Linked DNA regions of Homo sapiens: region 1 is linked to region 2. Evidence: fine-mapped expression QTL. A gene starts in region 2. The other region holds a variant in brackets. All regions are shown on one strand. Distances are between the middles of the regions. Region 1 overlaps PLEKHG5 (pleckstrin homology and RhoGEF domain containing G5). Region 2 holds the start of ESPN (espin).

Region 1 (4,372 bases), 45 kb after region 2:
TAGAGTGGCTGGGGCAGGAGAATCGTTTGAACCCGGGAGGCAGAGGTTGCAGTGAGCCGACATCACACCACTGCACTCCAACCTAGGTGACAGAGTGAGACTCTGTATTAAAAAAAAAAAAAAAGTTCCTGAAGGGACCCCCATGGAGGACCCACCTTCCCAAGAGGGCTGGCCTGAGTGTGGGAACTGGGCAGATTCAGCCCTGAATCCCCGGGGGGCACCTGGGGAGAGGCTCTGATGGTGGCTGAAGGTGGGGAAGTCTGGGGGTGTTGGTCTGGTGGCACCCCACACCCCATTACTTCCCAGTGCTTCCCATGGCAAGCTCCATCCGTGGCCCATCCGTGGCAAGTGGAGGAGCACAGGAACACAAGGAGGCCGCCCTGAACTCAAGTGCCCCGAGTCACTGGGCCCCAAAGCAAAGGACTCTTCCCAGTGGAGTCTAGACAAGTCTTTATAAAAGAACCAAAAGCTCAATAAATACGTAACTTCACAGAACCCAGCCCAAGCCAGGGGTGGCCTGTGGGACTGGGAAGGTGGGGGCAGGGCAGGAGTGAATCCCACTGGAGGCCAGTGAGGGTAGAAGTAGGATGGGCAGCCTAGGAGCCCAGCCCTGAAGACTCGAGCTGAGCTGGTAACTTCGGGGAGTAGGTGACGAGGGGCTGCCTGGGCAGGTGGGGTGGTACTGTGGCCTGGGCCTCCTCCACTCCATCCAGTCCGGCAAAGCGCAAATCGGGCCCGGGCGTAGGCAGGGATCCTGCCCAGCATCCGGCTCATGCATACAGGAGGCAGTAGCTGAAGCAGGTGCCGGCACGCCCCAGGAGGCAGGCTGTCTGCTGTCTCTTGGTCAATGGCACTCTTGGGGGCCTCCCTCTGCTCAGACCTCCCTACAGGGTGGGGAGGGGACAGAGTCCTTCTTTGGCTGACGCCATTCAGAGTGGCTCTGGTCACCCTCTCTTCCCCACGGCACTCCTCAGGCCCCTTCACTGCTGCCCACCACAGCCCCCTGCGCCCAGACACTGGGCAGGGTTCAGGCTCCCTCCGCCATGACCCTCCCCAAATGCGATGCTCCCAGGCATGAGTGGGCCCCCATGCCAGTGCCCTGAGCCACCTGCCCTACCCCAGTCCAGGCCACTCACGAGGCAGTGAGCGTGGAGTTAAGCAGCAGGGTGGTCCTGATTCGGTAGAGCTGGGCCAGGGTCAGCTTCCTGTGCTGGGCAGAGACCCCTGGTGGGGGCTCAGGCTGGACCCTGGGAGAGGCCCCCGAGGGCAGGTCTCCACACCTCTTCCTGTGGGAGCCTGCAGGTTCCCCGGCCAGGCAGCCGACTAGCCCAGGACCGCTGCCAGGGCTAGGGGCCCCTCGGCAATCCCAGCTGGGCCCAGCTTCCTGAGGGGAGCCCTGAGTCCTAATACCTGGGGCTGGAACAGCCAGGCAGAGCTCTGACAGGCTGCGGCTGGGGGCAGAGGGTGTCCCATGGGTGCCAGCCCCTGCCAGCAGCTGGAGGAGGCTGGCCTCGGACTTAGACTTGAGCAGGTGGGGCGGGCAGCTCAACAGCTGGACAGGGGTGCGGCGGCGGAGACGGGGCGAGGGTGGAGGGGAAGGAACTCGTGGGGACTCTGGGGCCCGAGGCACTAGCTCTGCCATTGGGCCTGGGGCCACAAAGTCTTGTAAGGAGGTTGGGGAGAGGGTGCCGTAGGCAGAGTCCATGGAGCAGGAGCGGCCGTCCACCGGACCCAGGGGCAGCAGCTCACTGGTGGGCGTGGCAGATGAGGCAGTGGTGCTGAGAGAGGTCTCATCAGACTGGGAGCTGAAAGGACCGCTGTCGAACTCGGGGGAGGACAG[C/T]GTGTCCCCAGGCTCTACCACAACCATGGCCAGGGTCTCCGTGGAGCCATCTGAGGCACTGTGGGGCCAGGAGCAGAGTCAGCCCAGGCCATGAAACCTAGATGGCCTGAGGCAGCCCCAGGCTGGGCAATGCACGGTGGTTTATACCCTCTGCCCTCCTGGGGCTGGAGGCTCAGAGATGGCAGCATGTGGCAGGTGTGGCAGATCTTCCAGCTCCAGTGCCCACAACAGACCTCAGTAGCGAGCCCAGCACTCTTCCCTGCCAAGGCTGGATCTGCCCTAAGGATCCTCAGCACAGCACCCCAGGCAGCTACCACGAATGGATCAGGGCTGGCAGCACATGGAAAGGTGTCTGCCCTCCCCACCCGGACTCTGGGGGAGACAGAGCCCCGCTCCCACAGTGTTCATGACAAGAGGCCATTGGGAGGAAGGGAGCGTGGCTGGGCCTTCAGGAGTCCTGGGCTAGAGTACTTGTCCTGGTTTGACCTGCTGGGTGGTCATGAGCAGACGTACCAGTGCTGAGAGTCGGGGCTGCCGCTGCTTTTCCGCATGATGGTAGGGGAGCTGGCAGCTGAAGTGCCACTGTCCTCGCCTTCCTCCTCCTCCTCCTCCTCCTCCTCTTCCTCCTCCTGCTCATCCTCCTCCTCTTCCAGGCTCTGCAGGGGCTGCTGACTGCCTGGGGGCTCCTGTGCACGCAGCTGTTGCAGCTGGTTCTGCAGGCAAGGTTGGGGTACATGGGACAGAATGGGTTGTGACCAGCATCTCCCTAATCTGCCTTGCCCACCCACTCACTACTCTGCACTCACCTGGGCATTGTAAATGGTGTCCACCCAGCCACGGCACAAGGCCTGGCCACTGGCCTGGAACGTGTAGGCCCCTACAGCACTGTGAAACTCATTCAGGTAGATAAGGAGGAAGGACCCTGGTTAGGGAAGGCCCAAGTCAGTGTCAGCAGAGACGATGGCCCCCACCCATCACAGCCCCTGACCAGGAACAGGGGACCAGGGCTCCTTACCAGGGTCCCGTAGCTCCCGGCACACAATCTTGTCCACGAGCAGGGGTGGCCTGATGACCCTGGTCCTCTCTGCCTTCTTCACTGCTTTGGTCACCAACAGCAGATCCGTGAAGAGGAAGCAGTACACATCCATCTGCAGTGGCAGGAGGGGGGGTGGCCAGAGAGGCCAGCAGGGTCAGGGCCAGGGACTGTGGCACCAGCCTCCCCTGGGAGCACTCGGTTTTTGTCAAACACTCCTCCCACCATGAACCTTCAAGTAAAATTAAAATGAAGAGGAAGATGATTCTCTTTCACTGAGATGTACGTTGATGACTTATCTCAATACAAGTTTACATTAAAAAGAAGACTGGTGACTTTGAAGTCACCGTGTGCAAGCTCTCAGCCTGCCCCATGCCTGAAGGGGCCATGGCACAGTAGCAAGGCTCTGGGGTTCCTGGCCCACTTGTGGAATATGGCTGCCCTCCCACCAGGAACCCATGTGGCACCAACAAATGGGCACAACTGGTGCCTTCAAGGGCTAGGACCCTACTGCTGGATTTGTGAATGGCAGGCAGAGAACTGTCATTCACTATGACAAGGTCACTGGTTCTTGAGTAACCACCGAAGGGACTGCAGAGCTGAGAACCAGTGACTGGGGCCCAGGAGGTCCCTAGGAAGGGCAGGGCACAGGGGTGGGGTGGCCCTGGAATCACCTTGCTGTCCTTCCCCTCCTTCATCCTCAGGCTCCCCTCCAGCAGCAGCTGCCGCGTCTCCTCCGGGGAGGCGCCAGGGATGGGCGCTGTCAAGTCCAGGTGCAGAAATTCCTTCAGGAGCTGGGGACGGATGGCGTGAACGTAGGGGAGGCCAGAGACTGACTCCCATCTCAGCTAGGCATCCTCAGTGAGATGCCCAGCACAGCCCCTGCCTGCCAGCTGGGCCTTCCTCTCTCCCAGCCGGCAACCCCCGCAGACACACACGCCCACCTTGTCCACTTCGTCGCTGCTGCTTTCCACCACCTCGTAGGCGTCGATGCGGCTCACCACGGCCGCCAGCCGCTGCCGCTCCTGCCGCTGCCGCATGCACGCGTTCACGTGGTGGATGAAGCGCTCCACGGAGCCGATCTAGGGGCAGGTGAGGGAGCTTCAGGTCCAGGGTCATGACGGAGCAGAGAGCCGCGCAGGGGGGACGGCTCCCGCTGGCCATCAGGGTTACCATGGCGACGACGGCCTCCTTGGCGCGCGGCTCCTCGGTCTTCCTCAGCACCGACTTGAGCAGCAGCGGGTACTTGGTGAGCCGCTGGTGGGGTTTGGCCAGCATGTCGCTCAGCTTCAGCCTCTGGCACTGTGGGTGCTTCTCCGCCCACTGCGGTGGGGGAGTGGGGGCGGGCTCAGGGCAGGCCCCGCCCCACCCGGCCCCGTCCAGGGTCCCGTCCTCCTGCGCCCCCGCCCACGGCACGCGCGCCCTCACCGTGATGTAGGCCCGGAAGAGGTCGTTGTCGCGCAGCAGGCCGCGCATGTACTCCATGCAGCCCTCCTCCT
Region 2 (4,372 bases):
TCTGTGTCATCTCAGGCAAAATGCTTTAAAAAAACAAAACAAGGCTGGGCGTGGTGGCTCATGCCTGTAATCTCAGCACTTTGAGAGACCAAGGTGGGCAGATTACTTGAGGTCAGGAATTCGAGACCAGCCTGGCCAACATGATGAAACCCCATCTCTACTAAAAATACAAAAAATAAAAAAATTAGCTAGGCATGGTGGCGGGCAGACACCTGTAATCTCAGCTACTTGGGAGGCTGAGGCAAGAGAATCACTTGAACCTGGGAGGCAGAAGTTGCAGTGAGCCTAGATTATGCCATTGCAATCCAGCCTGGGTGACAAGAGTGAAACTCCATCTCAAAAAACAAACAAACAGGCCGGGCACAGTGGCTCACGCCTGTAATCCTAGCACTTCGGGAGGCCAAGGTGGGCAGATCACGAGGTCAGGAGATCGAGACCATCCTGGCTAACACAATGAAACCCCGTCTCTACTAAAAATACAAAAAATTAGCTGGGCGTGGTGGCAGGCACCTGTAGTCCCAGCTACTCGGGAGGCTGAGGCAGAAAAATGGCGTGAGCCTGGGAGGCGGAGCTTGCAGTGAGCTGAGATTGTGCCACTGCACTCCAGCCTGGGCGACAGAGCAAGACTTGTCTCAAAAAAAAAAAAAAGAAAAAAAGAAAAAAAACCCTCCCTATCTCTCCATGCCTCATTATCCCCGACTGTGAACTGGGAACAATAGTTGTACCTCTCTCATAGCACCTCTGGATTAAATATCCATGTGAAGCATGGTGAGCACTTGGTGGGTGGTACAGATTTCATAAAAGTGCTACTGCTGCCGTGAGCTCCCTAGGGCTGCTGGGGAGGACCCAATTGGCCCGGTGGACATGGGAGAGCCCGGAGAGGACAGAAGCCTGGCAGGAAGGGCCTGGCTCACAGCCTGAGTTTGAGTCATGTCCCGAAAGGAGTCTGAGAGGTTGGTCAGCAGGGGTGGGTGCTCACATGTGGCACTAATGGAGATGTCATTAACAACAGTGGCAGGGGCTCAGGGGCATCTGCTCAGCCCACTGGAATAGCAATAAAGCATCACCTAGCCCTGGCCCACAAAATCACAAAACCATGTGCTAGATGAGCTCGTCCATGACCAAGGTGGCCACCTTAGGAGTGGAGAACACAAATTGCAGGGCCTTTTGGAATGGAGGAGGCCCAGGGGAGGGGTGCCCAAGACAAGCCATTTTAGCACCTCCTCCCAACAGTACCCCTGCCACTTGCTGGCCTCACGGCACACCTGCCTCTGGGCACCCAGAGGAGGGCAGCGCCAGCCGCAGTGAGCCTGTTGCTTTGGCCACCAGCTCCAGCAGCGAGGCTGCGAGGAAATGACTCCTCCTTCCTTTTGTCTGCAAACCACTGGGCAAGCGTCCCAGATTCCAGCGGCCACAGGTCCCATGGAGAGAGTGAGGGCGATCTGGCCTGGTGGAAGTCGTTGGAAACCCACCTGGCTAGGCACAGCCCAGCAGCTCCAGTTACCTGGGCACCTGGGAGCGCGGGAGGCCATCACGCAGGTCGCCACTAGGTGGCAGGCCCAGGGAAAGGACCGGAGGCAGCTGCCGAGTTTAGCACTATGAGTTTAGCACTATGACTCCCACTGTTCCTGGAAGGGGCTTCCTTCATTCTACAGCATTTCCAGTGCTGACTGTGCCAGGCTGGGGCTGGGGCGGAGTGAAACCTTCAGCCCGGGGTGGGGCCAAGCCCCCACGGGACTCCAGAGGGGGTGGGTGTTGGGACAGGAAGGGCACAGGGTGCTTCAAGATCGCTGATAGGCCGCCTGCACTCCCACAGCCATGTAGCTCCCACCTTCTGTCAGCTTTTCCTCGCGTCCTTTGGGCACTAGCCGCTCCCACGGCTGGTGTTCAGTGGAGCCTGCAGGGTGGCTTGGCACACATTCGCTCTCCTGCCCGCGCCCTCTGGCACTTTCCTGAGCCCCTGCAGGGGTCTCAGCCCCCTCTCTCTGGATGCCGGCGCTCCCGCGTCTCCCCACAAGCCCTAACCTCCCACCCATCCCTGCCTTCTGTGTGGCTGGAAGCCCCTCCACACCGACAGCGGCTGCGGGCGGCCTGAGGCCATGGCGTTCCCAGCGCACTAGTGGTTCCCGTCCTGCCTTCCTGCCCTCCCCGCTGGAACCTCTGGGGGCAGTTCTCGGATCTGGAGGGACCCTGGAAGGCAGGGCTCTTTGCAATCTCCGGGGATTTCGACCCAGAGCCCTTCAGGGACGTGGCAGGGCTGCTCCTGCCTCAGGGCCGTTGTCCTCGTGCTCCTCACCCCGCCTGGAATACCCTTCTCGCCGCTCAAACCCAGCCCCACGGCACCTCCTCAGAGACCTTTCCCTGTCCGCCCACGCGGTCCCGACAATCACTCCCCATCACCTCTGGAATTGCGTCGCCGGCGCCTGGAACCGCAGTTAGCGGGCACTGGGCAGATGAATGAATTTGTCTGTGCCTGGACGGCTCTCCAATTCGAACCCAGTTTTGCTGCCCTCTGGGGTCTCAACTGTTACGTGAGGCAAATTAGGAGAGAAGCCCCTGGGCACCTTGCCCCAGTCGCACGAGTGTCCCCGCGTCGCGGCGGGGGCGGGCGGGGAACTCGGGCGGAGGCTGCGGGGCGGGGCGGGGCGGGGTGGGGGCGGGCCCGAGTCTTAAGCCGGCGTCCGCGGGCTCCGGCCCCAGAGCGCGGCGGAGCGGAGCGCCAGGCAGCGCGGAGCGGAGGCCAGGCCCACAGCCGCTCCGCCTCCCGGCCCGCAGATCCCCGACGGCCGCACCGCGGGCTCCTCTGGCCCGCAAGAACACGTGCATGGCGTCCTGGGGAAGGCGCTGAGTGCGGAGTCGCGGCGCCGCACGCGGCACCATGGCCCTGGAGCAGGCGCTGCAGGCGGCGCGGCAGGGCGAGCTGGACGTGCTGAGGTCGCTGCACGCCGCAGGCCTCCTGGGGCCCTCGCTGCGCGACCCGCTGGACGCGCTGCCCGTGCACCACGCGGCCCGCGCTGGGAAGCTGCACTGTCTGCGCTTCCTGGTGGAGGAAGCCGCCCTCCCCGCCGCGGCCCGCGCCCGCAACGGCGCCACACCGGCCCACGACGCCTCCGCCACCGGCCACCTCGCCTGCCTGCAGTGGCTGCTGTCGCAGGGCGGCTGCAGAGTGCAGGTGGGTCCGCGCGGTTCGCCAGGGGCACTGAGGCTTCCTCCTCAGGACAGAGTCCTGGCCCAGAGTCCCCCGGGGCTCAAGGATGGGTGGGGTTTGGCACCTCCTGGCCCAGCTGAACCCTGCACGGAGCTCCTTCCAGAGGCCCTCAAGTGAATGGGCTCCCTGGCTTGCCAGTACTGGGGCAGATGCCCTGGCGAGCCTGGGTGCTCCCTGGAAGCGCACCTGGGTGATGGGAGCCAGAAGGGAGGGGCCTCCGTGGGGCTTGTGGTTACTAGTGTGTACCGGGAGAAGCAAAGCACTGATCCTGTAGTCCTGGAAGTGGGTGGGACGTGAGGCCTGGGCAGCAGAGTCAGACGCCCGTGTCCTCCAGGACCGGATCTGAAAGGAGGCTGGGCAAAGTCCCACAGCCCACCCGAGGCTGAGATTCAGGTGTCCCAGCCAGGGTGTGGGGGAAGGGTGATGAGCCGTGGTAAATGGGGGTCTCCCCATAACCCAGGCTGACCCCAGGACATCAGTGCTGTCAAGCTGTCAGCTGCTTCTCCAACCCAGGCTGATTCTTGCTGCCTCCAGACCCCACCTGGTCACTCTGAGCAGTGACCTCCAAGGGGAGTCCTGGCTGCTGAGAAGCAGGTAGCCAGGCAGCGGTGGGACAGTTCCAGGCACAGGGAACAAGAAGTGCAGAGCCCTGAGGCATGCACGCTCTTGTCCTGTCGGAGGGCCAGCCTCAGGCATCATGTTCAGAGTGGGTGAGGAAGGGAAAAGCTGCCAGGGCCAGGCCAGAGAGTATCATAGGCCGAGGTTAGGGATTTGGATGAAATTCTGGGTGTGGGGGCAGCCATGGGAGGGAGGAACCACAACCGATTTCCACTTAGACCACTGGGTGACCTGGAGATGGAAGGGGAGGAGTCAGGGTAACTCTAAACTGGCTTACTATGCCCCAAAGATGGCCAGGCCAACCCCACCTTCTGCCTTCAGATAGCAAGCCCCTCTTCCCACCCTTCCTGGGAGATGGCCCACCTGCTATCTCTCAGTGGGCCCTGTTACCAGGGCTTCCTGGCCAAGTGGCCCATGCCCACTCTTTTGGGCGGTGGCATGCCTCCCAGATCCAGTGTCCAGCCCTGGCCAGAAGCCTCTCTGGCCAGTGCAGAGGAGCTGGGAGAAGCAGGTGGCCTTGGGCCCAGCTTATCGTCTCCTGCCCTC

The links. PIP is the estimated chance that this variant, and not a neighbour inherited with it, causes the effect.
Region 1: its variant is fine-mapped to the expression of ESPN in blood mononuclear cells (TOPMed, PIP 0.96).

Annotation. Positions count from the first base shown.
Region 1 is chr1:6,466,689-6,471,060 of GRCh38, forward strand. It overlaps PLEKHG5 (pleckstrin homology and RhoGEF domain containing G5), which reads right to left. Exons shown (of 21, transcript NM_020631.6): 13 at 4,302-4,372; 14 at 4,047-4,196; 15 at 3,818-3,955; 16 at 3,548-3,667; 17 at 2,856-2,988; 18 at 2,647-2,762; 19 at 2,354-2,553; 20 at 1,137-1,898; 21 at 434-884. The coding sequence ends at 875. Among named protein-coding and RNA genes, the nearest start is that of TNFRSF25, 2.7 kb to the left of the region's middle. RefSeq lists an enhancer at 1-254. The variant C/T (reference allele first, on the strand shown) is at 1,841.
Region 2 is chr1:6,422,078-6,426,449 of GRCh38, forward strand. It overlaps ESPN (espin), which reads left to right and starts at 2,699. Exons shown (of 13, transcript NM_031475.3): 1 at 2,699-3,172. The coding sequence starts at 2,879. RefSeq lists enhancers at 1,414-2,028, 2,029-2,642 and silencers at 2,639-2,798, 2,829-2,878.